Regions from separate parts of the Homo sapiens genome. Here all the other regions are linked to region 2. The links come from fine-mapping of genetic effects on gene expression. A gene starts in region 2. Each other region holds a variant in brackets. All regions are shown on one strand. Distances are between the middles of the regions. Region 1 overlaps MCTP2 (multiple C2 and transmembrane domain containing 2). Region 2 holds the start of MCTP2 (multiple C2 and transmembrane domain containing 2). Region 3 has its middle 61 kb from the start of LINC01581.

Region 1 (10,374 bases), 250 kb after region 2:
AAAATCAAACCCTTTGTGTGTTGGGGACTACTGAACAGTTAAATGTTACCTTGACTTCTGAGTAGGAGCCATTCAGAGTACAACGAAGCTAAGAATTCATTCAGCGTCATTGGGACTGACAGCCCTTCAGATATGATCCTTGTTAAACAAGCACCCTGTGGCAAAACTTCAGAAGGCCACCTAGTCTTTCTGCTTCTAAAACTCAACATGAAAAACGGGTTGACATTTGGTGAAAAGACTACAGCTTATGAGCTCCGGATATAGTCAAAGCAGCTCCAAAGAGCAGAGTAGAAGACAAAACGTGGTTGAGAGGAACTCCCCTCTAAAGAGTAAACCAGGGGCAGAGCGTGTCCTGGATATGCACGGGAACCCAAGGTGCAGCCACCAAAGAGGGACGGTCTATAGGATGTTGACATCTTAAACGTTCAACCCGTTTCTAATTATCCTTGTCCTTGTCCTAAATTAGCATGTTCTCCATTGCCCAGACAGACCCACGCACCGACGTTGTGATCCATAAATTAAGTTAGCAACCATAGTAAGATAATTTGCCAATAATAACTTTTCACAGTTTCCTGCAGCATCAAAGTACAATCAACATGTCAGGTTCTGTTCTGCTGTGAGAGGAGAGAAACCTGTGAAAATGAGTTGGAGGTGGGGAAAGACAGATGACTGCGGTTTTCTTTGTAACAACAAGAAAACAACTCCCGCCCTCTACCTCCCACTGCTACGTTTGGTCCAGAGCCTCCAAGCAGGGACTTGTTTGGGCTAATGAAGGCCTTTTCCCATCTGGGACATTTGTTTTCATAGCAGAGGCGGCTGTTAATCAGCGTATTCCAAAAAAGCCAACGTGCTCCCCAGTTTGAGCGTGTGTTTCTGTCGCCCTGCTGCTGGGATTGTAATGGGATTTTCACAGCTGAAGAAGGCAGAGCCCCTCTTCACCAGCCCCTGCTTCCTGCCTTCAGGAAAAGGCATTTGTGAATGATTCTACATGACAGCAACATGTGCTTGACTTGAGGTCTGGTAATTGTTTTCACACTAATTTTTACTTGTGAATATCCCCTCTCCCCCGAGTCAGGCGAGTTTTTGAAGATAGATGCTAGATAGATAGATGATTGACTGACAGATAGATAGATAGATAGATAGATAGATAGATAGATAGATAGATAGACAGACAGACAGATAAAGAGATCTCCTGTGTTTCTATTTTTCAGGCATAAATAAATTTACTAAGAAGCTTCGAAATCCCTATTCCATCGACAATAATGAGCTACTAGACTTCCTCTCTAGGGTACCGTCTGATGTTCAAAAGGTATGTAATGAATGGTTACCACCAACAGTGGCCCCAACCTGAAATCTGGCCAGCCCCGGAGCCAGAGGAACACAAGGCTTTGCTTGTGTGAGTAATTGAGATAAGGAACCAGAAAATCCTTAAAGAGGCCTGGCTTGCAGAGAAGTGGCAGAAAAATCTTTGTCCAAAGCATGAGGTGATTGGGGGAAATTGTTTTGAAAAAGAGCTACTTAAGTATGATCTGGAACTCACACTGTGTGGCTACTGGGCACTGATGCTTGTCCCCTTTCGATTGCTTGCCTCCCTAAAGAGGATAAGATGGGCTCAGTGAGTAGAATTGCATGAGATCCAAACCCAGGGAGTGTTGCTTATTTTCTTCTTCCGGGTGGCAAGCATTTTAGGGGAAGTAGGGGACAAAAGGATTATTCTTTTTATTCTCATTTGCCCTGATTTATCTCCTAGGCCTCCCTTCTATCGTCTTCCCTCTGAAGACTTAGGGATGCTGAGAATGCAGCCCCCATTTACTGTAATACACAAAGAGGCAGAGGCAGTGTGAAATAATGTGAGATCAATCAGAAGTATTATTCACAGATAATGGTCACCTAGTCCAGCAGTGTCCTGTTTCTGTGGATACACAGAGATTAACGAAGGCAACAATACTAGAAAGTCGTGTAGAGTAGCTCGATCCTGGCCCCTGTGGATCAGCCTGCTATAAATCCAGAGGAAGGAGGGCAGGCGGCAGTTTCTCTAATGGAGAACAGAGATCACTGAATAGGTAGATGGGGAGACCATGGCGTGAAATATCATCAAGATGATCAAAGACACAATCCTTTAATATCTCAGAGAATCCCAAATCAAATATCGATTTTCATATTTGAGCCACTGTAGCATAATTGGTTCCCTGGCAGCTCAGGGAGGATTTCAAAGATCTGGGGCGGAAAAGCCTTAGAGTTTCTTTCCCCTTCATTCCGAGTTCTAGAAATTAAAATGGACTCTGTGATGCTATCTTCCTTTAAAATTCATTTCATAATTAGCTGTGAAAACACATTCTAGAAAGATGAATTTACTCTTTAACATTTGTATTACTTAATTAAAAAATAATAACCCGGCCCCTGTTTGTTTTGCATTGAAGATTGACAGGTATGTCATCCTCTGCTCCCTTAGGGCACCTTCGCAAAACACCATAAGGAATGGGGTGTTTTCTTCATTTATCTGCCTCTGACAAAGTACAGCCTGACTTCTGTGATCAGGCATAATGTCCTTGGGGAATTTGTCACAAATGCTAAAAATAGGGAGCACATGTGGTCTGTAATACAATGTTTTAAATAAAGCCATTCCACCAGCAGCCTATCAAAGCCCACACACCAAAGCAATATATTTGCAACGTACCATCACTTGGGTCGCAGTGTGAGTTCACACTGTATCCTTGAAGAACAGAAATTTCCCTCAAGCCCCCAAGGATTCTCTGTGCAGAGTCCAGTCACTAGCCCTCAAAGTGGCCATTCCAGTTGGAGATGGCATGAACACAGAGAGATGCAGCAAAAGAACATTCCAGGAAGATGTACAGTATGCTAGTAAGATCCTCCGTGTATCGCCAAGGGCGCTTTCTAATAACACAGTGACAGTTTGCCACTGGGGACTCCCAAGTACTCATATTTATCACAGATGTTTTAGTCATTACATTGCAAATGAAATTAATTTCCACGAGAAATCTATATAAAAGTCTGGGGTCCAGTATCAATTTCAGCATTTTTTCCTCTCAGGCAAAGTAAATGTGTATAATTTTCCGAGATGTTTTCCCCAAGATTTTAGATATTTTTAAACGAATAATCCTCAGTAAGTTGCTGTATCATATACTAAGATAAACATTCCCAAGAGGCAGTTATTAAGCTTACTTATGGTTGAAAACTGGCACACACAAAACGAACATCATCTAGCAGTGCCCAGCGAAGGTAGAAACCCACGCATCTCATTAGAAAAATCTGCTTTTAATATTTTGGTTTCAAGAAATGATGCATGACTTCTCAAATCCTTCCTGCAATTAATCCCTCCATGTTCCTGTGTTTAGAAAATGATTCATTACCTTTGAACCTTCCTTCCTTTGCCTTCGGTTGTCCTTGGGGAGCCATTAGCACACACTGTGGCGAGCTAGGGTTACCTAACCGCCAGCATCACGGCTATTTGTTTTCACAGGTGCAGTATGCAGAATTGAAACTCTGCAGCAGCCACAGCCCCCTGCGGAAGAAGCGCAGCGCTCTCTAGGGCACACACCGACTTTGGACAGCAGCACCCAATATTGTGTTTGGTTGAGTAGACCAATGTTATGGCTGTTTCAGTGGTACCCAAGGTGTCCTTCTGAAATGCATGCCCTGTGGCACCCTCTGTATACTTCCTCCTCCTTCACGTGCACAGACATACACACATGTGCACACACCCTCATGCATGGGTGTCCTAGTTGCGTAGAGGGTCAGCCCAGCGAAAAGCAACAACCCCAAGACTGTGAAAGACTAACATCCATTCTGAAATAGGAGATAACAAGGCTGCCATGGATCTGAACACCACCTTCCTTGAGAACAGCCAGGAGCCCACTTGGATTCAAGAGTGACTTTGAACTTGTTTTCACACCTCCAACAGACTCTCATTAAGATTCAGTTATTTCCGCTCCCCAGCCCCACACTCCTTTCAGATTATCGTTCATGGGCGTAAGTCTCTTCTCAGAGTTAACAAGTCTTTGGTAGTCATCCTCTGTCCAAATATTGTATATTATTAAAAGGCATTTTTAATAATTACCAGAATTAGCTCAAACCTTTAGGGATCTTTCAGCCATGATTATTAAGGATATGTATGTGAATTTTTGGGAAACCTCTCGGTGCTGGATGCCAGCCTACAGCAGGGTCCATTGCTGGCAATGGATGGCCCAGGAAGGTCCCTAGAGATCACTCACTTGAAAAATGAGGGTCCCATGAAAGTATTTGGTTGCCTTCTGATGCCACTTCTTCTCACTTTACTTTTTGCTTATTTTCAAAATATTATAAAATGTCAACATATAATTTCAGAAAGGCAGGTGGGGGTAGGGGAGAAATGAATGAATAAATTCTCTAGGTATTTAGAAAGATAAGAAACTGAAGACCGAGAGACTAATAAGGCTGCTTACCTAATTATTATAATCATTTCATTTGCCTGAATGTTTTAAGCAGGAAGTAGAAATACTTTGGCTGCCCAAATGTATCTTTTGTTCCTCTTAGAAGTAAAATAAGCTACATACAATAAAAATTTATTTCAGAACCCCATTTCTAGAAAATACCACCCCAGAGTCCTCATTTGATAGCATCTGTCTCCTGCAGACCTCATCATTCCACAGTATTTCCCTGCCATGTAAAAATCCTGACTTTGTGCGTATATAAAATGTATGCAATTAAGTCTGTTTAAATGATATTTAAGTTTTAAAGACTGTATTTTGTTGACACATACTTTGTGCAGTTTTTATGTATGTATGTATTATAAAAAAAGTTAAGGTTAAAAA[G/C]ATCTCATTTAATAGTGAGTTCACTATTTTTTTTTTTTTGTCTCTGGGTTGTAATTTAATAATCTTCAAACAAAATGTTTACGAAAAATGCCAAAGATTCTAAATCTTATCATCCCGTGTCTGTTTTTCTTCATGTTGTATCTCACTGGGTTGCTTTCTGGCTGAGCCAGAATTCTGCATGATTTGATTTACTTCAAGTTAATGAAGCTGGCTGGAAAAGAGCCTTGCAGAAATTATAAAAGCTCCAGTAAATCTCGTAGTTGTACATACAATAGATACCCAAGAACCTCTTTTGTTAAACCAGTTACTCAATCTTCTGTGTAAACAATGCCTCATTGTCTTGCTTCTAACTATCATCTAGTTTATCATAGTCTGTCATTTTGTAACGACCTAAGTCAGACATTTTTAAACAGACATGTGAGATCTGATCAGTCATTTGAATGAAAACTTTCAGCAGCAAAATAACCCCTTATTTATTTAAAAGTGGAACCAATACTTTATTGTTGTTCTTTTGCTATAGAATTTCAAAATGAAATTATTTGCCCGACAAGAAGGCATCATTAGTTAGACTTGTTTCCTCTGTAGCCCGATTGAAATTCTCAGTGTTAAGTTTAGGACCCAAACACCAGCTGGGACGTAAGAGCAGGACCGAATCAACCTTGAATAAACTGTATATAGAAAACAATTGTTAGTTGATTAAGTAGACATTGGATGTTTGTTAGAAAGGAATGTTAGTTGTAAGTGACATGTTAAGATTTATACAATTGTCAAAAACTTTTAGGAAAGATTCCAGAATGCTTTTGATAAAATTTATCGATTGTGGATTCACAGTGTGATAATTAAGTAGGGATGTTGAAGTCTTGCCAAGTTTTCCTGGTTCCCTTCTCAAACTTTATCTTCCCATTTCTAGCCCTGTCTCTCTATCTTACAGGCATCTACACCTCAGCAAGTCAGAAACTAAACATCATCTGTCTCTCCCTGTCTTCAGAACCCCAACCCTCATAATCTCCTTCCAGCTTCCTTATTTCCCTTACCAGGACTGGCATTTTCTGGGCTTGGAATTTCTCGGTCATCCTCTTTTTTTTTGTTCCTCGTGCTGTTGTCCTCGTCTCCCAACCCCTAAAGCCTAGTAGGTCCAGTGTCAATGCATTAACCACTTCTGTTCTGATTTCCACCACCCAAGTGGAGGCCTTCATAACCTCTCAGACGTCACGGCCATGATGCCAGTTACATTATGCCTAGTTAATCTTCATTCAGACTGGAAGGACCTGCCCCCAGTTGTTTCTTTCTGAATAGATTCTACTCTCCTTCAACACTTCCAAAGTCTCCTGCCCCAAAGAGGCTTAGTTAGTCCTGTGGCTGGATGTGACTCCAACTTCCTTTTTTGTACCATCACATCTTTCATATCTTTCTGGCATCTGCCATACATCATAAGAGGCTTTGACCACTGTCCTCCACTGAATAGCCCATTACAGCTAGCACCTAATAGTTACTCAGGAAATAAATACATGTTTAACAGGCCAGGTCGTAGAGATTATTTTTCTTTCTCTGCCTTTTCATGTGCTGCTTTCAGAACAGAGGGCTGGATTGGATAGATTAGTATGATCTATCCTGGAGATTCATTTCTTGCATTAAGAGCTTATTTTGTGTGATATTATTTATAATCCCTGACTATGTCAATTATAAACTTTTAAATTATGTCTTATATTTGAAGTTCTTACCTACATATCAGAGGAAAATATAATGTTTATTTCTAGGTGGTAAAACAATCTTCTGGATTCTTTTTTCTTTACTTGTAAATTATCATTTAACAAGTCTATATTGAATGCCGATAATTTTCTGGAACAAAACAGACTACATTCCCTTGGTAAAGCCAGACATTAAACAGATACTTTCAAGCAACAGCATGCCATGCTCAGATTTAAGTTTGAAAAATATTCTAGCTGCAATGGATAGCCTAGCAATTTTCAAAGTTTAGAGAAGTTATTAATATTAGCCCTTTGTAGTACTCCTGATAAATGAATAACACCCTGGACTTTCAAATAGTGGCACTGGGAAAAAAGTAAGTAGAATTGAGAGATGGTGAAGAGATAAAGTGAGCAGGACTTAACAATTGCTGGACTATGGGATGAGGGAGCGTAGAGTCAAGGATGGCTCTCAGTCCCTAGGTCTCCAGGTCTAGGAAGATGGTGTTACCTTTCACTAAGGGAGAGAACTGTAAGAACTGCTGTGAGAGGACCACAGGAGTCCAGTTTTAGCGCTGAATCTCAGGTGACTGAAAAGCATCCAAATAGGAATGTCAGCAAGGTAATGGAATATATAGTTCTCAGAGAAGTAACACACTGTACTTGAGATGTACACAAGTTAAAGGCAAACATTGTATATGAAAAGTGATCAAAACTACATGCTTCAAGAAATTAAACCTTGAAGAACTCAACAGTTAATGTCATATATAGAAAGGCAAGTCAGTTAAGAGTGTAAATAGAAACGGGTAAATACAGAGGAGAAAAACAGTAAGCATGGACTGTCCTAGAATTCAGTGGCAGAGCATACTGCAAGAAAGCTGATGTGGTCAATAATATCAAATGCCGCTGAGATCACATAAGTACAGAATCATGACCTTAATGGTTTGACAGTTTGGAAGCACCCTGGCAACAAGCCATTTCAGTGGAATGGTAGAAATGGAAACCACGCTGGGTTGAGAAGTGAGTGGATGTGAAAATATGGGGCCTCTGAATGGAGGTAACCCTTGAAAAATTCCACTGTGGAGAAGAAAGGAGAGAGAGAGGGCTGGAATTTGGAATGAAAGGAGATATTTGGGATTATTTTAGTAAGAAAACAGAGGTGTCATGACCTCAGTGTAACCCTATTAGCTGCAAAAAATTCTTCATGGGCTTGAGATGGAGTTAGCCATATTCATTATTGAAAACTATGTTCTGCACTTATACATTGTTGGTTGGAGTGTAAATTAGTTCAACCGCTGTGGAAGACAGGGTGGGTGTTTCCTCAAAAACCTAAAGACAGAAATACCATTTGACCCAGCAATCCCATAACTGGGTATGTACCCAAAGGAATATAAATTGTTCTACTATAAAAACACATGCACACACATGTTCACTGCAACACTATTTACAATAGCAAAGACACTGGATCAGTCTAAATGCCCATCATTGATAGAATGGATAAAGAAAATGTGGTAGAGGTACACCATGGAATACTATGCAGCCATAAAAAAGAATGAGATCATGTCCTTTTGCAGGAACTTGGATACAGCTGGAGGCCATTATCCTTAGCAAACTAATGCAGCAACAGAAAACCAAATACCACATGTTCTCATTTATAGGTAGGAGTTAAATGATGAGAACACATGGACATGTAGAAGGGAACAAAATACACTGGGGGCTATTGGAGGGTGAAGGGTGAAAGGAGGAAGAGGATCAGGAAAAATAATGAGTACCAGGCTTAATACATGGGCGATGAAATAATCTGTATGACAAGCCTCTCTGACACAGTTTACCTATGTAACAAACCTGCACAGTTACCCCTGAACTTTAAAAAAAACTATGTTCTATCAAAACCTGCCTCTCATTTATGTATTAGGAATCTTGTGACAACGGAACAGTTGAAAAATTAAAATAAAAATTGCCTGAAAATGCATTGAGTAGTAACTGATAATTGAATAAATGCTGAAATCCTGAAGGGTGACTTCTAAAGGAATGGCTTCAAGCATGTTACCTCTGTGTAAAGCCCACAGCTGTTCTGTCCTAGCATTTATGTAATGATTTACACAGGAAAATGGATATTCAAGCACACAAGAATACTAATATTTTATGGCATTTATCAAATGCCAGTTACTTTCTAAGTGTTTTAGATATAATTGCTCATTCAAAATAATTCTAAAAACTGAAATTTCTCCAAATACTTATAGGAAAAAAAAAAAACCTGTCGCTCTTATACAAACTCTTCTAGACAATAACAAAAGAAAAAAAACCACTTTCTTAAGCATTTTATGAGGCCAACATAACTCTCCTTCAAAACCAACTAAGTTCTACCAGAATGGAAAACTACTTAAGAAAATCCCTTATGAAGATACAAAATTGTGAAAGATATACAGAAGTCTTTACACTGAAAACATCAGTGAGGCTTCCAGATACTTGACCAGACAATAATGAGTAGATAATCACAGTTCACATATATAAGAGAGAATGCTGGAATTCTACAGATAAGTGACAGGAAACACCTAAAGCAAGGAAGGGAAAGAAAGCAATACAGTCTGTTCAGGTGGGATAGGCTAGGAGCCAGGAAAGGCTTCCCAGTATGAGAAAAGAGTAAGTGGGTGACTCCTAGTGATCAACGTTCCCACTACAGACTCCCACATTCCAGCCATAGGAATGCCCCTAGACTATTGTGAGCCCCCAGACCAACATAGGGAGCTACCTGAAGACCGTGTGACGATACTGCCCCAGAGAGGGAGCACACATAATCCCACACACCCCCAAGTCCTAAGCAGCTACAGCAAGTTGTCACTTGGATATCTCAGCCCTCACCAGACTGCATTCTGTCCTGGGCCCTACAGCCCCTGCATCTTCATATCCCTGGAACCCCAATGACATGCTTCACCTGCAGCCACAACTCCAGCTGCCTGCTACCTGTAGGGCTTAAGTGTGAGCTGTTGGCAGCTACCACACTGCTCCCAACTGTGAAGCTGCTGTGCAGCTTTTAATCACCCTAAGGACAACAAATCCACCAGGTGACAGCCATAGCAGTGGGCTGCCTCAACTGGGGCCAAAGGCAAGTGAAATGTACACTTCCCAGGCACTTGTGTGCCACTGCTGCCATTGAAAGTGACTCTATTCTCCCCTGTACCAGGGGTGCAGTACAGCTGCTGCCACCCCAACATGAACATTCTGGGGCCTGGGGTCACACCGCCCCTGCCTTCCATAGTCAGTGTCTGCAAGCACTACTGAAGGATGTGAGGATGAGTCCACTGGACCTAGCTCTGACCCCCACCCCCTAGTATCAAATCATGGCATCTGGAGGCCTGGGGAGTACTCAGCCCAGTCCACCAATATTGGCACCTGAGCACTCCAACAAGGGCCCTGAAGTTGGGGCCACCCAACCTGCCACTACCATCACAATGAGCACACACACACACACACACACACATACACGTGTCACCTGTGGGCCTGGGGACTGGCCTGCCCAGCCTGTCACAACCACTGCCAACACCACTGTGGAGCTCTTGGGACTCAGAGGTTAGTCCTACCACTACTACTGCTTCACCCATGCCATGCCAACTGCCCAAGTGCCCAAGGACACACTTACCACCAGCCCACGACTGCCACTATCATCACCCAAACAAGCTGCCTGGAGGCCCAAGAATTGGCTGGCTTGGGTCTGCTAGCACAGTGCCAGCATACACTGTCCTAGGGCCCAAGGACAGGCCCATCTGGTGTCCTTTTCACAAGCAAAAGTTCACCACAGCCTTCCCTAATAACCACAACCTAGGCCACTGACGAAAATCACAGACACCAGTGAAGCTATTTAGAGCCAAAGAAATCAT
Region 2 (10,374 bases):
TTCTGCCTTTTATTCGCCTGCCATGTTTCATCATTAAGTGACCATGGAAGTTTCTATCTTGCAGAGGACACGAGCCTCCCTGAGCACATCTTGCTAAAATGTGCACTTTAGAACTACCTAGAACATGGGCAGCCAGCAGGATAATGTGTCCACATGCATTTTAAATGTGGATCTCTGAGCCTACTCCTTGTTACTTTACTTCCAGCTCTCAAAGAAATATTGCTTAACAAAATTGTATTTCAGTGATGTACTAAAATACGAATAATATGTTCAGGTGCAACAATATGATGTTGGGATTTGGTTGGTTCTCAAGAGAAGTGATTGGTTTTCATTGCTGGAGAAGATAGTCTTTCAGAAACGAGGCATTACAGACACAAAACTTAACAGAGACCCAGAATAGTTTAATCTGCTGTATGAACACATAGCCAGGATTCTGTTCATAGTTTTGTGGATTCCTTGAGCATATTTTGCCAATGAATGTGTATGAAAGCAGTACACATAGTTTGAAATATAAAGCCAGGGTTTTCAGATGAGAGGTGCTGGAATAGAACTACATTTTGCAAAGTAATGAAGTAGGGCTCACTTTCACCAAAAACCATCAGGGATAAGGAGGCAGGTCACAGCCCACACTGAAGGTGGATGCAAAGGTCACTGTAGAAAGTTCTAAACTACAACTGAGAAGATGTCTGATATTAACAAATGAAGCTACTCCTTTCCCTTTAAAATATCTAAAATATATTTTTGTGCTGACTGAATTAGGTTTTCCTTATTCTTCTCCATTTTAAAGTCAGCTGAATAGAAGTTCAACCTAATCAAAGTTTACTTTTTAAAAGAACAAGCCCTTTAGAGAATGTGTAATTTTTCATTATAGTTGGGTATTTCTCAGTAGGAAAAATGAAAAACTTTAGCACATACTGGAAATTAAGAAATTAAGAAATTAACTTAGTCTTAAGGTCAGATTACTTACTGTCTTATTTTCTACTTTGGATTTTTTCAGGAAGTGGCAACAATTGTCACTACAAAGACGTGCCTAAAAAAAAATCAGTAAAGCAGGCAGGTGCCTACCAGGTTGGTTTGCAAATGTCCTTATGCACTTAATAAGACCTTGTCTATTTCCTGACTACTTTTCAATCCATTAATTAGTGATGTTGTACTTTCTTTGTAGGTTATCATTAGAGGCAGTAATGGGAGACTGGATGAATGAAAACTTATGCAAATTATACATCCCAACCAGTCACAAAGACAGACTGGAGACGTCAAGTCCAAAATTTGTTAATGTCCTCAGCCATAGACATAGTTATTATTTCTCCACATTTGTCTATATTTTGATTTTCTGATTAAGATTATGGAAATACTGCTAGATGGCTGGCTTCATTTATTGAACTGATCTTTGTCTGCCAGTTGAGTCTGTACTTATCTCAATTGTGTAAGCCAGGTTTCACCCATGAAGACTCCCTTTTTTCATCACTTGGGACTGACTGGGGTCCCGGTTTCTGCTGATTCTCTGGTGTATTTTCTACCTGGTTTTTTACACCACTTGCTGGGCTCTGCAGGTGCTACTATCAAGGCCTCTTCACTCTGACACTCTATTGTGTTTATCTGTTTACACATCTAGCGAAAATGTGAGCCATTGGAGGGCAGAAGCTATCATATTTGTGTTATATCCACAGAGTTTATCACAGAGCTTAATATATGGATCAGGGGATTCAAACTGGTTGCCAGGCTTTCGGCCACCTGTATTTTTTAGCCAGCACAGGGTTAACAATAAGTAAATTTGAATGTCTTTAGGTGGGCCTACTCTCTGCTATTTGCCACAGTCTCTATCTTCTTATATGTGACCACAGTCAATCTCTATTTCACCAGTCTCACCCATGTAGGCACCCTAGTTTGTGGTCCTGGTTGTAGATGATGAATACATGCTAATTATGTGAATGAATACATCAATGAATGTACTTCTTATTTTGCATGGAGAATTGATTGTTATCTAAATATTCTTGTCCTGAAAATTCCCCTAGTTTCATCTCTCATTTTGGAAAATACAGGTAGAAAAACAGATAACTGTAATGTGCAATGCACAAATAAGCATTTCTGAATACTTGCCAGAGGTGAGCCACTCTGTGCATTCTAGTGGCTCAATTAGAGAGGAAAACAAATTCAACTGTGTTATTTGCAGAACCCATAAGATGCAAACAAACCATTTGTTGTGGAAAAGCTCAAGATTTTTGTATCTGAGATGAGTGATAACTTCTACCTTGGATCATCTTAAAACAGGCAGTGTAATTTTAAAAAACAATGACCCCGACCAACATGCCAAATGTATGTTCAACAACGTATTTCCCAAGGTAGATTCTTAAGATACCCCCCACTATTGCCAATGACAACACACTAGAGAACAATTCAATAAATGTGATTTGGGGCCACAGAAATTCTCTACAGTATGAACCTCTCCCCTGGCCTAGGGGAAGTTTTAAGCAATTAACTGAATGAAATTCAGATCGTCAGACAAAAATGTTGGTACTGAGATAGTAATCTTGGGCAAAGTTAACCTTCATCTGAAGAAGTAAATTTGGTTCTTCTTTACCCATCTAATGAATGGCAGACTCAGTCTCTTAAGAGTTAACTCCAAGCCTCTAATAATTTTAACTTTTCAGAAGCAACCACTACCAGATGTTCATTTTGGCCATAAAAGTTCCCACCCAATAAAGGTACAACATCCATAAAAGTCGATCTTTGAACAACTTACTACCTGTGAACATTTCCAGCTAATCAGCTTGTGTTAAATACATGTTTAGGTATTTGAAAGAAAAGAACTTGATACATAGAATCATCATTAGGACAATTCAATGCTGATGTTGATTTCCAAAGAGATTTTATAAGAAGTCTTTCTGAATAATTAGAGAATAGGACTCATTTTCTGTTAGGTCCATTCTTTTGTTCAAGAAAGTGAAGCCTACAGGATAAACTCGTAACTAGTAAGTGGCAGAGCTAGGTCTGGAGTGAGTCACTAAATTTGGTCTCTCCACACCTGCCTATAAAAAGGGGATAACATGATAATTATACCAAAGGAAAAAAAATCCTGAGTACATATAATAACAAAGACTATTTGCACTAACAATAAAAGAAGTACCATTTCTCAACGCCACGTAACAGAGTGCATATTCTTCCTTAAAGCACACACTAAAATAAACATTTGTTACTTGGACAATAGACTGAAGTTTGCTTTAACCATTATATTCGTTTTAACCCCTGGTAGATCTAAATTGACATGTTTATGTCTCAGTCATTTTTCTACTTCTGCTCTTATCGGCCCAGAAATGATGAGAAGCACCAACGAAGGAAAATGTGAGGGAAGCTAGGTGCCAAGCCCTTACATTACTGCTAGCAGATCTCAGACAGCTTTCTCTTTGACATAAAGGGACTTGTCCCAGCAAGATTAGCTCTGTGTCCTCCAAATGGAGCCAGACTGTGTTGACTGCATGGCCAACTCTGATAGGATGACCCAAGGAGGCTCCCACTGAGCAGAGAAGATATGGAACTCTAGATCCTATGCATTTACAGACAGGGTCTTGTCTTCTTTAGAGAAGACTGCTTTAACCCTCATTGTCAAAGACTCTGGGTGGCTACAGCAATTTTCATTTGTTTCATTTGAAATACTCTGGCTCATTCAAAAAGGCACAGGGACGTGGCTAGATAACTGCACTAATTGTTATCTAGCCTTTGTATGCACTTAACCGTGCTTCTGCATGTATGACAGGCAGTATAGCCATGATAGCCAAGGAGTACACTGGGCCTTCAGAAGACACATCTTCCATTTACAATTTAAAAGAAGAGGTGCCAATATTAGATTGTCATGCAACCAAACATACATTGTCTAAGATATAAAAGCAATTGTATCTGAAAGTGGGAAATCTCCACCTCAATTATCACATTGACAATAGGGGCATTTCTTCAGAGGCCAAATATCTGGTTGCTCAGAAGAGAGAGAAAGCTGCCTATGATACGTGCAGGAGATTTTATTTTTTTTTAAGTATAATTATGACATCACTGACCAGTGCCTATAATGTAAGACCTGGTTCAAAATCTGTTTAGAGAAATTCAATATAACAAAAGTGTGTTAAAAATTTATCAGCTACATGTATGAGTCCAGTTGCCATTCTAAATGCTGGTGTGGTTATGTAGTAAAGTTAAATTGGTATAAGCAACAATATTATTCCCTGGAAGGGACATTTCCTGGGTGGAACATAGAAAAGGAGACAGGTAATATGTTTGAACAATTAAAAACAAAAAACCCAGGAAGCTGGGCAGATGAGTGTATTGTGGTGGGAAGGGCAAGTTGTGACCTTAGATTTCTGTATCTTTAGTTGTTTCACTTTCTATACCATTTAATGATTGAAAAATGCGGTTGGACTGCCGGAACCACAGAACAGGAACTCCACTGGGGCAGGAGTTAAAGGCAAAAAAGCTTTTGTGTGGGTTCACTTACTATTTTAATTCATTTGTATTCTTAGTCAGCTTTAAAGGTATGATTGCTTCGTCTGCCTACTGCTCTTTCTCTTCTTCCTTTCATGCTGTTTTACCCTTACCTCTCTCTGTTCTCTGCTAGGGGATGTAACCTTCGGCACGGTGGGAAAAGCCAATTTTGCCATAGGCCTCAGCTTGCTCTGACTCGGCTACTAACTTGACTCATAGCTTCAGGCAGGTTATTTCATGGTTCTGATGCTCATTTTCCTCATCTTGAATCAGAGATTTTATTAACTGTCTCCTGGTTTGTGAAAATTCAATATGATCACGTGTTACATGCCAATCACAGAAACTGGTGCGAAGTTGTGTTCCTCAGTGGTAGCTATTGTTGTAAGTCGGAATTGCATGACAGTGGCAGCTGTTTTCTATCACGTCCTCATGTTTTCTAAATTTTTATGCCCCTTCCTCCCATTTCCTACCTTAGTATTGTTAATAGCTAACTTTTATTAAGTGGTTACCATGGCCCAGGACACTGTAATGAGGATTTTATGTGAATTACCTAATTAATTTCTCAGAAAGTATGAGATAGCTATTATTTTAAGCTATTTAAGCTATTTTAAGCTATTTAAACAACCAGTTTGTTGAAGTTAAAATTTAGAGAGGTTAAGTGAACTCGTCCATTTACACAATTAGTTGCCCAGGCAGAATTTGATTTGAGGTCTGACTCCAAAGCCGGAGCTCTTAATCACCAGTGACACCAACTAAACGCTTCATTTCAGAGCTCGCCTATTCCCAGAGGTCCCATTCCCGTTTTAAGGTTATTTTCTGTAACTCTCTTGTATCTAATTTAAAAATGCTATTTCCCAGAGATGAGTCCCTGATCTCCCAGAAGGCATGGATCATACATTTCTTTTCCTAATCCACCCAAATTCCTAGAGCGCACAGACTTAGGCTCGTTCATAGACGGGAAAAGAAACTGACCAGGCAGTGAAACCGAGCAAACAAAGTGCAATAAGACAATTACAGCAGGAAAGCGGCGTAAAAAAAAGTAGAAAAAGAAAGTAAGGGAAAGGGGAAATAAATAGCAAATATTCGCTGAGTGCCAACAATCGCACGGGAGGGTCTTTAGGGTTCTCTGCCGAGTACTCGGGACGGCTTGCTGAGCAGTACGCCGGCCTTATCTCATAGATGAGGCACCAAGGCTCAGGAAACAGTTCTGTGGATCTGGGCGGGCATCTTCCACCCACAGTCGCGCACACGTGGCATAGGTTAATAGGCTGTCTGGCTCGGGTACCTCTTCCCAGGGTCAGGGCGTTACAAAGGGAGGCTGCTGTCTTCCCATGAATCTATTAGGGACCTACAGGAGCGAAGAGAACCCTTCTGAGTATCAGCGAAGACAGCTTATTAAGACTTTACGAGTTTGCAAGCCATCCTCGTCCTATTTCCTCACTTCGGACTTTTTGGACACACCTTCCTTTTCCTGTGAGCCAACCCAAACGAATGAGTTACAAGTAATCGCCTTCTCTACGCCCAGCCAGTGCCCAGCACCAAGCATAGCGCCTCCTTGCAACACCCGGCCGAGCTCCCGGCGGCAGCGCGGGCGCTTGGGTCGGAGGCTGCTCAAAGGTGACGCGCGGCCGCCTCCTCCCCTTTAGGCGGGGCTCGCAAGGGCGGTGGGGGGGCCCGAGGAAGTCCGGGGGCCCTCGGTGATGCCCCCGCCCCCGCCGCGTCAGGGTTGCTCCCTGCGCTTCCGAGTGGCGACTGCAGCGGGTCCGGTGCAGGTGAGGGGCGCGCGCCTGCCCAGCTTTGCAGCCCCCGAACGCGGCCTCGCACAGGTGAGGGCGGTGCCGGGTTCACCTGGCAGCGCGCGTGGGCCGGGCAGCACGGTCGCCGCCTGGGGGTGGGCGTCTTCTCTCAACCGAAGCTGGGAGTTGGGGAGCTGGAGGGTCCAGGATGAGAATTCAGTGGCGCTACTACCCCGGAGCTGCTTGTGGTTCAGAGATCAGAAAGGTGTCCTGAGGACTGGAGGCAGAAATCCAGGCGTGGCGTACTGGAAGGCGCACTAGGGGAGGGCAGCCTGGCCCAGAATTTCTTTGCATTTTAAAGGCCACACATTCAGTCTCCCCGGGGCGCTACGGAGGTAGTCACCGCCACATCCAGGACTCCTTCCACAGAGGTCAGTTCCTCAGCTGGGTGGGCTTTAATACGCTCTCTTCGTAGAGACCCGGAGGTTCAACTTTAATTCTTTGCGCTGACATTTGCTCAACGACACCGGAGCAGAAATCCTTGGGATAATTGCGTAGGTAACAAACAGTGTCTCAATCCCACTGAAGATAAGTAAGTTAAAAATAAAGACAGTGATGTTGGTGGTGAACTTGAGTGGCGATTAGTTTCCGCAATTAGTTCCCTCCTGCACTGTCCATTTGTTAAGCAAATGTGCTGACGGCTTTTTTTAAATGATTGGGTTGCCATAAAAGAGGTTTTCTCTAGTCTGAATGAACTTCTGTGCGATGCTGACTGAGGGTTTCAGCCTCCTCTAGATGCTTACAAGAGCTTGGTCTGGAAGGTACAAGGGTGCGAACCCTTAAGGTACCAAGCAGCTTCTCAGTGAACCGTGAGACGTTAGAACACTTGCTTCAGGACGCACAGAATTCAGACACCACTTATTGAAGGATTTGTATGGATTATAATTTACATTAGCATTCATTTTTTGCTTGAGTCAGTAGCATTTCAATTCAACAAATATTTATTGTACACCTGTTAACGGGCAGACCTCTGAGAGCCGGGCTGGTGTGCTGTTGGGTAGCACAGGTGTTGATATTAATACAAAGGGGAATCTTAAGGCACTTATTCCTCACAGGTGGGTGTTTAGAACGAGACCAATGGTGCTGCGCTTTGCCTCAGCAGCACCTGTGTAATCGCTGGTTATAAGTATTTAAATGCAGGGAGAATGTAAATCTTTGAAGAGTCTCTGTCATTAGCCTGATCAGTCATTCCAAAGCAATAAAAATTGTCAAAACCATGCTTAAAATAAGATTATTAAGAATTAGCTCTGTGCCAAGCACCATGCTAGGCACTTTGTCTTGTCTATGAAATCTACAAAGTAGATACTATTCCCCTGTGCAGATAAGGAACTGAGGCAGAGAGGAGTCCAGTAATTTGTACAAGGTCAGTGGTGAATTTAGAAATTGCATGTGGCTATTTCTGAGTGCAGAACTCGTACTTTTTCACTATTCCATGCTGTCTCTAAGATGGAGAGTGTAAATCCGGCAGATTTAATATAAGAATTCAAATTTATATTCATAGATCCTATCTCCTGGGGATTAATGGAGTTAAAGTAGTCCTCAGGAATGAAGTGAGCACTGTTTTCATTGCACTTGTGTGGTCAAGCTGTGACCTATCTGTGACTAGTAGATGTAGCTTTAAAAGATAAAATTTATTATGTGTCTTAACATATTTTGAAAGGCCTTTCAAAATATGTTAAAAGATAAAATTTATTATGTCTCTTAACATATTTTGAAAGGCCTGATATATCCAAACAGGGCCAATTAATAAAATTGCATATATATTCTCTCTGTGTTATACATGGAAGGAACAGCTAATTTCCTATTATTGGTGTGCTTTACTATGGTCTCCTCCTGCAGAGGTGAGTTTCTCAGCTGAGTGGGCTTTGAAATCAATTTCAGCTTGATTTCTTACAGCTGCAAGATGATTAGCGGTCTCTTGTCACCTGGAAAGGACTTTGTGTTTGTGTAAACCTGTGCTCACACACGAATATATATTTTTCCTTAAACCTATTTCCAGAAGTACTACTTCTGGAAATTGTAGAGTACTGCAATGTGATGATCTGGCGAGGAATCAAGTTCCTTATTTGACTTTTGCATAAAGGATTTATAACAACTGACAATTTCTTTAAGTGCATGTAAACCAGGAAAGTAATTTTCAAATTAAAATTATTATACTGTGGAGAATGGAAAGTGAGTGAAAAATAGTACTCTGAATTCAAATAATATTTCTTGTTGTGGAAAACACTTGCTTTCTTAAAACTTTTCTTGTAATTGTTGGTAATTACACACAGAAATGGAAGGGGTTTTATATTTAAATTACCTTGAATTGTTGCCAGTTAACTGTTGAGAAAAGGCTTTGCCCGTGAAGCGAGGATCAGGTAGAATATTTTGCCTGCGTCAATCTTGGCACAGATTTTTTTTTTCCCTCTATCTTCACGTGGAGGTGAAACAGCCAGACACCTTAAACTCCTCTTTAGGAGCTGAGCTGTTAAGTCCTTCCTAGAAGGTGTTTATAAAAGTGTGCCTGACCTGGTAAGGTGTTCTCATGGGGAACCAGGGTGGGTGATGAAGGAGGAGAGTATGTAGGGGATATGAAGCAGGGGCAGTTCCAAGTTTTGTGAGGCCTAAAAGGTAAACAATTTGGAGACTCTCTTTAAGAAAATTAATACAAAATTAGGTGTGAAAGTGAATATGTATTTAAAATGAGAAAAAGAGATGATAATTTACTGGAGATTTCTGCCTGTTTCTGTGGAGATCTTGGGCAATTTACCAGAAATGCTTACAAAAACAGGAGTGCTGATTGCAATCCGGCTTCCCCTCTCCCTGAGAACACTCAGCATTTCCCAGCAGCTTGTCACACCCACGGGGGGCCCTGCTAGTGAGAAGCCCAAAGTTGAAGCTCTGTTACCCTCAAAGAGTGAGAGGGAAAGTTGTGGTTAAAGGCAAAGGACTCATGCTCCACTGAGCAGAGAAGAGACTGCTGGATGGGACAGCAGAGACACTCTGGACACTCATGTCCAACGAACAATTCTGAGAGCTGGTCTTCAAGACTTTCCAGGTTGGTTTGTTTCTCAGGGATGCCTTTGGCCATTGGCTTTTCCAACTATCAGTCACCATTTATTGGGAGTTTTCTAATGTCCCAAGTCCTGAGTAAGGCGAAGTCCTGATTGTCAAGAACTCCCAGTCTCATGGAGCTGATTTCATTGATCACAGTGCTTTGTTATAGGCTTGCATAGAGATGCCACAGGGGCCTTGGAGGGTTCCTGATGGCTTGAGCTGAGTTTGGAGTTACTCTGATGGAGTCCAGGAGGGTCATTCTAAGTGAGCAGAGAGCCATTAAAAGCCCTGGTGGTGGTCGGGCACAGTGGCTCACGCCTGTAATCCCAGCACTTTGGGAGGCCGAGTTGGGTGGATCACCTGAGGTCAGGAGTTCGAGACCGGCCTGGCCAATATGGCGAAATCCCATCTCTACTAAAAGTACAAAAATTAGTCCGGTGTGGTGGCAGTGCCTATAATCCTAGGTAATTGGGAGGCTGAGGTAGGAGAATGGCTTGAACTTGGGAGGCGGAGGTTGCAGCAGTGAGCCAAGATTGCACCATTGCATTCCAGCCTGGGAGACAAGAGCGAAACTCCGTCTCAAAAAAAAAAAAAAATCCCTGGTGGTTTAGACTCATTCATTCTCCTCCACTGATGTTCTTCGAGTCCGGCAGCACCTACGTACCTGAGATTAACTTGTTAGAAATGCACGTTCTCAGGCACCCCGCATTAGGAGCTCTGCGTCTAGAGCACAGTAATCTGTGCTTTAAGAAGCCCTCCGGATGATTCTGGTGCATGCTAAAATCTGAAAACCACTGGTCTTAATATTTAAGAGAACAGATAGGGCATGGAATCCCTTATGGAGATCACTGGGAGGGAACTGAAATTAATAATAATAGTAATATATTAGTGTTGTAATATGATAATTTGTATTACTATCACTAACATTTATTGAGCTCTCAGGTTGTGCCAGGCATTTTGCTAAGAAATATTAACTCTTAATCTTCGGTACAAACCCTGGGTAACGCAGGGCTATGATCAACTGGATTTAAATGTGAGAAAACTGAAAGAGAAATAGGAAATTGTCCGT
Region 3 (10,374 bases), 61 kb before region 2:
TTAAATGTAAACAACAAAAATGGTAAGTAGAAAACTAGGCTTACATGTAAACAAAAAAATGGTAATTAAAAAAACTAGGCTTAAACGTAAACAGTAAAGAAGTAATACGCAGGCCTAGCTGGAGGGCAGATTGATGATACACAAGGCACATTCTTGTTACCTCTGCTTTCTCCGAAGCTGAGAATAAAATCCAGATTCAATCATTGCCGTTTCTGTATTCTACCTGCAGGGGGCAGTGCAGGCTACTGTATGTGGCCTTTGGCCTCACTGGGAAAGGGTTTCAGAGGATCAGGGGCAGTTGGAGAAATTTTTTTCACTTCTTTTATTTGTATTTGCTGTTTCTGAACTGATTTGAATCACAGTGTCATTTCTGTTGCGCTTTCCTTCTCCTTCTTCTCCTCTCTGATGTCTTCTCTCTCCGCATTTACTCTTTTTCTCCCAAGATTCCCAAAGTCTGAAACAGCTCTACTTGCAGTGAAAAGAAATGCGTCCCCCTTTTCCTTGCACTTCTAATCAGACGTTGACGGATTAGCTAAAGGCGGGGGGAAGCTGGTGTCCTGATTATTCTATGTGCCCATTTATCTGGAGAATGTTTCTCAGGTAGATCTTCCTACCTCTTGATGTACTTGATGAAATCTATTTCTATCACTTTCCTCCTAAAACCCTCAAATACCCCGTCAAATCCCATAGGATAAGTCTAAGCATGGAAATCTATCTTAGCCTGTTTCTCCTACCCTGTTCTGCACCACTACACCAGGCTGCAGCCCGTGAACACATACTGTGTCCATTCCCAACTCCGGGCCTTCACTTATGGCTGCCTTCTCTCTGAAATGTCCTTCCCCTATTCTCTGCTCATAAAACATCATGCTCACTCATCCCTCAAAACTCAGTTCAAGTTCCTTAGTGAAACCTTCTCTCACTTGAACTTCACAGCCTTCCACATACATCCCAACCATCTTAGCAGCCTTCTGTGCACAAGCTCATTGGCAGGCTGTCACTCTAGCAGCTATCAATGTGGCAATCTTCCTCTTTCGTTCTTATTTATATCTGTTTTCCCATTACATAGCACAGGGCTGGAATGATGGTAGGTACTCAATTCATATTTATTAAATTCATAATCGAATGGCTCTTTTCTAAAATACACTACTTCTGATATATCCTAGGTAAGTTATCTTTAACTTGTACACATTTAGGTCACCCGGAAAGCTCTTGAAACTCCTCATAAACAGACCCCACCCCAGACCAATGAAACCAGAACTTCTGTGGATGTAGCCCAGGCATGAGCATCTTTGAAAGTTCTCCAGCTTTCAAGACGCAACCAAGGCTTAGAATTACTGCCATTGCAGTGATTTACAAAATGTGGTCCCAAGGCCAGCCATATCAACCTTTTATGGTAAAGGCAAATTTTTAGGACTCACCCAAAACCATAAATGCAGAAATGGCTGGGGAGTTTGGGAGTGGTGGCTGGGGGGCGGGGGGGGGGGCAGGGTAGCAATCTGTATTTTAAGAGACCATTTATTTAGTCAACGCATACTACAGTGTAAGAACCACTGCCTCGTCCTGGCGTGGCTCACGCCTGTAATCCCGTTGTGTCCGGAGTTGGTTCCTCCATGCCTGTAATCCCAGTGTGTCCGGATTTGGTTCCTTCCAGTAGGTTCGTGGTCTTACTGACTTCAAGAATGAAACCGCGAACCTTGCTGGTGAGTGTTACAGCTCTTCAACGTGGCAGGGACCCAAAGAGTGAGCAGCAGTAAGATTTATTATGAAGAGTGAAAGAATAAAGCTTCCCCAGCAAGGAAGAGGACCCTACCACGTTGCCGCTGCTGGTTGGGGTGGCCAGCTTTTATTCCCTTATTTGTCCTCCCCCCATGTCCTGCTGATTGGTCCATTTTACAGAGCGCTGATTGGTCCATTTTACAAAGTGCCAATTGGTCCATTTTACAAACCTCTAGCTAGCTACAGAGTGCTGGTTGGTGCATTTTTGCAGAGCACTGATTGGTGAATTTATAAACCTCTTGTAAGACAGAAAAGTTCCCCAAGTCCCCACTGGATCCAGGAGGTCCAGCTGTCTTCGCCTTTCAGTAGGACTTTGGGAGGTTGAGGTGGGCGCATCCCCTGAGGTCAGGAGTTCGAGACCAGCCTGGCCAACATAGTGAAACCCCGTCTCTACTAAAAATACAAAAATTAGCTGGTGTGGTGGGACGTGCCTGTTATCCCAACTACTCGGGAGGCTGAGGCAGGAGAATTGCTTGAACCCAGGAGGTGGAGGTTGCAGTGAGCCAAGATAGTGCCACTGCACTCCAGCCTGGGCAACAGAGCGATACCCCGTCTCACACCCACACAAAAATACTAAAATAAAAAAAAAAACCCACTGCCTCCGAGATTCACTTTAAATAATGTTGCAATGTTTTGTGTGAATGAATCCTTCCTCCACCTTGTTCCGATTTTATTCTGGGCACTATTTCTTCCATATACTTACAAACAAAAAGCAGGCTCATATTAGATTTTTTTTTTAACCCAGTTTGGTCTTGTGATCTACATCAATCCATCTTGTGACCAATATCAATGCAATAGCCCAAAAAGATATTTTACATGTTTATTTCATGCCTTAAAACAACCAGAAATATCATTGTCATGGCTAATTTCCAAATTATGAACTAAAAATTGACAAAAAACGAACATACATTGGACTTTCACTATGTGCCACACACATATTAATACACTTAACATGTATTATGTTAAGTGCTTAATTATCTCACAACTCTAAAAAGTGAGTACATTAGCACATCCATTCTACAGATGAGAAAAGGAAGGCTGGAAAAAGACATGATGAATCCAGGGGGAAGAGCAGGGATTTGAATTCAGATCTGCCCTGACGTCAAGTTCTTCTTTGGGGTTTCATGATTTTCCATTTTGTACTTTGCACATAGTCATGCAGCTGTAGAGTGAAGAAAATCTGTTGCTTTTCAAAGTTCCTGGCTAGTTCCTGAAGAAATGTTATTACTTTGAGCACACTGATATGGTTTGGCTGTGTCCCCACCCAAATCTCATCTTGAATTTTAGCTCCCATAATTCCCACTTGTTGTGGGAGGTGATTGAATAATGGGGGGGGGTGGGTCTTTCCTGTGCTGTTCTCGTGATAGTGAATAAGTCTCACGAGATCTGATGGTTTTATACAGGGGAGTTCCCATGCACATGCTCTCTTTTTTTGCTTGCCACCATGTAAGATCTGACTTTGCTCCTCCTCTACCTTCTCTCATGATTGTGAGGCCTCCCCAGCCATGTGGCACTGACTCCATTAAACCTCCTTCCTTTATAAATTACCCAGTCTCAGGTATGTCTTTATTAGCAGTGTGAGAACAGGCTAATACACACATTAAATAATTATGCTGTTTCCTGCTCATTTGGAGTGGTATACACATAAGGGCTTTCTCTCTTTTTTTTTCCCCCAAGGCTTTAAAAAGGGGTATGATTTCAACACTCACAGGATTGGAGAGGAAGTTTTATTCGAAGACGGTAAAACTCTTAAACTCACAGCCTTGGTTCTAAACCTATGGTCTGAATTCTTAGAGTCATTATTCACGTTGTCATTCTGAGTCTATGAATATTACTAAAGTTTTACCAGGCCCTGTGCTAGGCTTTGGGAGGCAGAGCGGTGAAAGAGATAGGTAAGGCCTCTGCTTTCCTCTTAATCAAGCCAGGGCCCCTGCTTGCTCGCCATCAAGAAGAACCATATCTACAATACATAAATCAGTGCAGTAGCTAAGTTTAGATGTTATGATTGCATTACCAAAGGCAATAAGACAGGAGGTGGCCAGCGCAGGCCTCCATGAACTAAACTGTATCGTGTGTGTGTGTGTGTGTGTGTGTGTGTGTGCGCGCGCGCGTGTGCGTGTGTGTGTGTACACGTTTCCTCTTAAGGGTACTGACAGAAAGATCTTTTTACCTGCGTACCTCTGTTAATAACTAGTTCTAAACTATGTTGGAGAATGGGTATGGATTCTACAACCAGATTAAATAGATATGGCCTATCTGACAAAGCAAACCTGAGATTCTATTTTCAAAACAGTACACCTCAATCATAAAATCTCTAATGCCAGCACCACCTGTAGCTCGCTGAGCCCCAGCTGAAGGAGAAGGGGATAAGTAAGGAGGTTTTTAAGACCGTGGCTGGTACAAAGCCGACTGCCCACAGATCAACCAGTGGCAAAGCCCCCAGGAAGCAACCGGCTGTGGAAGCTGCTTGCAGTAGTGCGCCCTCTCCTGGAAGGGTGAAGAAAACTCATAATTACAGGCCTGGTTACTGTGACACTCCATGATATCAGACCTTATCAGAAGTCCTCCAAACTTCTGATTTGCAAACTTTCCTTCCAGCATCTGATGCACGTAATTGCTCAGGACTTGAAAACATCTGCGCTTTTAGAGCGCAGCTATTGGTGCTTTGCAGGAGGCAAGTGAGTGAGGGCTATCTGGTTGGCCTTTTTGAAGACACCAACTTGTGCACTATCCATGCCAAATGTGTAACAATTATGCCAAAAGTCGTCCAGCTAGCACATCTCATACGTAGAGAAGGTCCTTAAGAATCCTCTATGATGGGAACATTTCATTCTGAGAAAAATTCTCTTCTTCTTGTTATTGGTGGTTCTGAATGTTAGATATTTTTTTTTCCATGGGGTCAAAAGGTAACTAAGTATATGATTGCCAGTGAAAAAACAGAGGACAGAAACCAGATATTGACACTTTTTTTCTGTGTTCGTTTGTGTGTGAACTGTTAGTATAAATGCCCTGCATTTATGTCCCTACATGAAGCATTAATGCAAGTCAAACCTTTCAGTGAAGAAGTCTCAGTGGTTAAACTTTATAACAATTAAGAAACCTGTTATTTTTTTTCTGAACAATGCTAGCATTTGGATTTTTTAAAAAAAAATAAGTAAATGTTTTATTGACAGCAACTAAATGGTGTTTGTAGCATTTTTATCAAATGACAGATACCATCCATTCACTAGACTTTTCTCACTGAATTGTCCTACATGCAGTACGTGTTTTTTAATGTTGTCTTTCTTCTGTGTTGTTTCTGTAAGTTTGCTATTAAAATACATTAAACTATTTTTAAAAAACTCTCCATAGGTCGTGGTCAGCAAGCATGTCTTCAGCAATCACATCAGTCTCAGGAGAAATTTTCATGGTCAGGAAGATAAATTTCATCCTAGATAGGGCAGTGTTGTAATAAAGGCATAGAATAGGATGGAAGCATGGTGATGACCAGGAATAATGAGAACTCTCCTCTACCTGCCTGTCCAACAGATATATTATTTAAGGATAATTAGTTCAATGCTTAAATCAATGAAATCTTATTTTAAAATAGAGTTACAAATAATCACTTTTAGTAACTCAGAAGGAAGCACTGGGATGAGGCTATGAAAGGCAGAATGTGTTAGTGAACAAAGTCATTGAGTCCGTTAGGTCACAACTGAGACTATGCTTTCAAAAGCATCCCCTAGCCTAATTACCCAATTGTTTTCTTTTTGATTTTTAGACAGAGTCTTGCTCTGTCACCCAGGCTGGAGTGGTGC[G/A]ATCTGGGCTCACTGCCACCTCCGCCTCCCAAGTTCAAGCAATTCTCCTGCCTCAGCCTCCTGAGTAGCTGGGACTACAAGTGTGCACCACCACGCCTGGCTAATTTTTGTATTTGTAGTAGAGACAAGATTTCACCATGTTGGCCAGACTAGCCTCAAAGTCCTGACCTCAACAGATCCACCCACGTTGGCCTCTCAAAGTTCTGGGATTACAGGCATGAGCCACTGCACCCAGCCCTATATGTATTTTTTTAATAGTCCTTTTCCCCTAGAATTGTTCACAACCCTTATTCTATTCCTTTCCTTATGTTTCTGTCTTTCATCCTCCCCATCAGGAGGGCCAATTACAAAATACTCAGGGAAGGAAAGGCTCTTAGGGACATGTTTCTAGGAAGATGAATCTCTATAAACTTTCCTTCAAACAATCACCAACTCCAGTTTCCTGATTTTAACTCAATTGTCAAGTCATTGTTAGATTCAAAAATAGTAAACAAGAAAGCAAAGAATAAATCAGAACCTGAGGATAAAGGGCAGAAGGTTCATTGAAGAAGGTAAAAGTTTGGTCCACAAAAACAATTTTAGAATAAATGAATCCAGTAATGTCGCAGGATACAAAACCAACACTCAAAACTCAGTGTGTTTCTCTACACTAACAACAGAAAACCCCAGAAGGAAATAAAATCAACAATCCCTTTTACAATACCATCAAAAAGGATAATGTAGAATAATGAAGGTGCTTACCACTATGAACTTCCCTCTTAGGTCTACTTTTGCTGCATCCCCTAAGTTGTGTTTCCATTTTCAATTGTCTCAAGATATTTTTTAATTTTCCTTTTGATTTCTTCTTTGACCCTTTGGTTGCTCAGAAGTATGTTGTTTAATTTCTACCTATTTGTGTGTTTTCCCATTTTCTTCCTGTGATTGGTTTATAGTTTTATATCACTGTGATTGGAAAAGATAACCTGGTATGATTTCAACCTTCTTGAATTTGTTAAAACTTATTTTGTGTCCTAACATATGGTCTATCCTGGAGAATGTTCCATGTGTACTTGAAAAGAATAGTATCCTGCTGCTGAAGGATGGAGTGTTCTATTGTAAAGCATGGCCACTATAGTTAATAATAATGTATTATTAAGTTGGTGCAAAAGTCATTGTGTTTTTTGCCAATGCACCACTGCACTCCAGCCCGGCAACAGAGCGAGACTCCATCAAAAAAAAAAAAAAAGTATTTGCAAAAACCACAATTACTTTTGCATCAACCTAATAAATACTTGAATTGCTAAGAGTTTAAATCTTACCTGTTCTTACCACAAAAATATATATGCCTGTGAGATTATAGTTAATTAGTATGATTTAATCATTTAATAATGTACAAATATACCATAACATCACAGTGCACACCACAAGTACACAAATTTTTCTTTGTCAGTTATAACTTAATAAACCGGGGAACATTTTTTAAGAGCTGAAAGTATTATAAATATGTAAAAAAAGAAGAATAAAATACTTAGGAATAAGGTTTTGTTTTTCATTTTTTTAATTTATTTCATTTTATTTTTTAGTGATACATAACAGATGTACATATTTTGGGGGCACCTGTGATAATTTGATACATTCATATAATCCTAGGGTAATTAGGATATCCATCACCATAAATATTTATCTTTTCTTTATGCTAGAAATATTGGAATTAACAGATAAACATAAGGAGGCAAAAATCTTGTACACTGAAAATTATAAAACGTTATTGAAAAAATCAAAGAAGATAAAAATAAATGGAAAGACATCCTATGCTCATGATTGGAAAAACTTAATTCTATAACGATATTCATAGTACCCAAAAAATCTATAGATTCATTGCAATCCCTATCAAAATCTCAATGGCAATTTTTGTAGAAATAGACAAAACCCATCCTGAAATTGATAGGGAATCTCAGAAGACTCTGAATAGTCAAAACAATCTTTAAAAAGAAGACCAAAGTTGGAGTTCTCATACTTCCTGAATTCAAAACATAATACAAATCTACAGTAATCAAAACAGCATGGTAATAGCATAAAGAGAAACATATAGACCAATAAAACAGAATAGGCAGCCCAGAAATAAACTCTTGCTTACATGGTAAAATTATTTTCAACAAGGGAGTCACAGTCACACAATAGGGAAAGGAGAGCTTCCTGAATAAATGGTATTGGGAAAACTAGATATCCACATTCAAAAGAATGAAATTGGATTCTTACCTTAAACAATATACTAAAGCTAACTCAAAGTGAATCAAAGGCCTAAATGTAAGATTTAAAACTTTAAAACTCCGCAAAGAAAACATAGGGGAAAGGCTGCATGACATTGGAATTGGCATTCATTTCTTGAATACGACACCAAAAGTACAGGAAACAAAAACAAAACAGACAAATGAGACTATATAAAAGCTACAGATGAGACTATATAAAAGCTACAAACTATTTGGCATCGAAAAAGTCAACAGTGAAAAGGCAACCTACGGAATGGGAGAAAATATCTGCAAATCATCTATCTCATAAGTTCGTATCCAGAATATAGGTAGACTTCTTAGAACTCAACAATTAAAAACAAATAACCCAGTTCAAAAATGGGCAAAGAACTCAGCTAGACACTTCTCCAGTTGGCCAATAAACACATGAAAAGATGTTTAATATCACTAAACAACAGAGAAATGCAAATCAAAACCACAGTGAGATACCATCTCACACCCATTAGGATGACTATGATTTAAAAAACAAAAACAAAAGCAGAAAACAAGTACTGGCAAGGATGCAAAGAAATTGGAGACCTTGGACACTCCTTAGTGGGAGTGTAAAATGATGCACCTACTGCAGAAAACAGTATGAAGTGTCCTCAAAAACATAAGAATAGAATTACCATATGATCCAGTAATGCCATTTCTGAATATATGTCTGAAAAATTAAGAGCAGGAACTTCAAGAGATCTTTGCACACCTACGTTCATAGCAGCACCATTCACAACAGTCAACATTTGGAAGCAACCAAAATGTTCATGGATGGATAAATAAAGAAAATGCGTTCTTTACATACAATGGAATATAATTCAGCCTTAAAAAGGAAGAGAAACTTGTCACATGTTACAACATGGTTGACCCTTGAGGACATTACGCTAAGTGAAATAAACCAGTCACAAAAAGACAAATAATGTGTGATTCTACTTATATGAGGTATATGAAAAGCCAAACTCATAGAAAGTAAAATTGTGGTTGCTAGGGGGCAGAAAGCAGGGAGGTTTTGTTCAATGAGTCTAAAGTTTCAGTGCACAATTAAAATTTCTGGACAACTATTGCACAGCTATGCGAATACAGTTAACACTACCAAATTGCACAATTTAAAATTGTTAAGATGATAAATTATGTTAGATAGAGTGCTTTAAGAGAGAGAAGAGCAGTCGTTCTTGGGGTATAGCTACAGTTAGTCAAAGTCATTGTATTTGGCGCATTAGGTGTTACAGTTTAGTGAAAAAGGAAGTTTGTGAATAAGGAAGAAGAAACCCAGAGAGGGATGTAAACAGGAAAGAGGAATAAGATGGAGGCGTGGCCGGGCGCGGTGGCTCACGCCTGTAATCCCAGCACTTTGGGAGGTCGAGGCGGGTGGATGATGAGGCCCAGAGATGGAGACCATCCTGACTAACACGGTGAAACCCCGTCTCTACTAAAAATACAAAAAATTAGCCAGGCGTGGTGGCAGGAGAATGGCATGAACCCAGGGGGCAGAGCTTGCAGTGAGCCGAGATCACGCCACTGCGCTCCAGCCTGGGAGACAGAGCGAGACTCCGTCTCCAAAAAAAAAAAAAAAAAAAAAAAAAAGATGGAGGCGTAAGAGAATAAAGAGCTGGTGGGCCAGGAGAATGCCCTGTAGCAGAGGGCAGAAAAAAGTGCTGGTAGTGGGTGTTGGTTAGTGGTGTTCTGTACTGCAGATATTTACGGGAAAAACGATACCCAAAGTGGGAACATTTCAGAAAAGGCAGAATTAGCCTTGGAAAATTAGGAGGGAAAAATGAGAGAATGAACATAGAAATAGAGTTTATTAATCAGAATGTAATACTGCAAACCACAGCAAAAGAATTTGGTTAACTCAAGCAAAAAGGAATGTATTTGGAGGGTCTTGGGTTAACTCTCAAAATTCACAGAAGACCAGATAATCAGAGCTAAACCAACAAAGACTGGGATCCAAAAACACAGGCAAGTTCAAACCACAGGATGAACTGAGGTTAAGTCATGGGCACTGGTACTATTGCCACTGGACACTAAAGCTGATAACACTGGTGTCTTTAGGCTACTGCTGGTGACAACTTTAAGCTGTGAATCTGTCAACCGCTCCCCAAGATTCAAAAGCTTGGCTGTGCATGTCTTACCAGCCAAACCTTCATCACCTTCCCACTCCTCCACACCATGACTTTCAAGAGTACCTGCTCTCCTGCTTTGGGAGACACCCAAGTCACAGTGTCCCACCAGGACACACAATGCAGGAATTCCTTCAAAAAGTAAGGCTCTTATGATCATGAGTTGCTAGAATAAAACATGCATACCCACCACACCATACCCCACCATTGTCTAGACATAAACAAAACATAACACACAATAAAAAGCTCCTACCAAAGATAAACAAGCTTACCCTTATTCTACTGAACATATTCCACTTCCAAAAGGAAGCCACTATACTCTCTCCACTTTCTTCAAGTTTCAACCCTAAGACCTCTGACTAACATCTATTTCTTTTTTCAGTTTTGTGGCAATTCTATTTCAAACCACAAAATAAT

The links.
Region 1: its variant is fine-mapped to the expression of MCTP2 in lung (TOPMed, PIP 0.91).
Region 3: its variant is fine-mapped to the expression of MCTP2 in whole blood (TOPMed, PIP above 0.99).

The regions. Positions count from the first base shown.
Region 1 is chr15:94,475,485-94,485,858 of GRCh38, forward strand. It overlaps MCTP2 (multiple C2 and transmembrane domain containing 2), which reads left to right. Exons shown (of 23, transcript NM_001385001.1): 22 at 1,212-1,309; 23 at 3,482-8,468. The coding sequence ends at 3,550. Among named protein-coding and RNA genes, the nearest start is that of LINC02852, 110 kb to the right of the region's middle. The variant G/C (reference allele first, on the strand shown) is at 4,812.
Region 2 is chr15:94,225,369-94,235,742 of GRCh38, forward strand. It overlaps MCTP2 (multiple C2 and transmembrane domain containing 2), which reads left to right and starts at 6,193. Exons shown (of 23, transcript NM_001385001.1): 1 at 6,193-6,296. RefSeq lists an enhancer at 4,448-4,587 and a silencer at 6,123-6,252.
Region 3 is chr15:94,164,181-94,174,554 of GRCh38, forward strand. It overlaps the pseudogene H3P40. Among named protein-coding and RNA genes, the nearest start is that of LINC01581, 61 kb to the left of the region's middle. The variant G/A (reference allele first, on the strand shown) is at 5,574.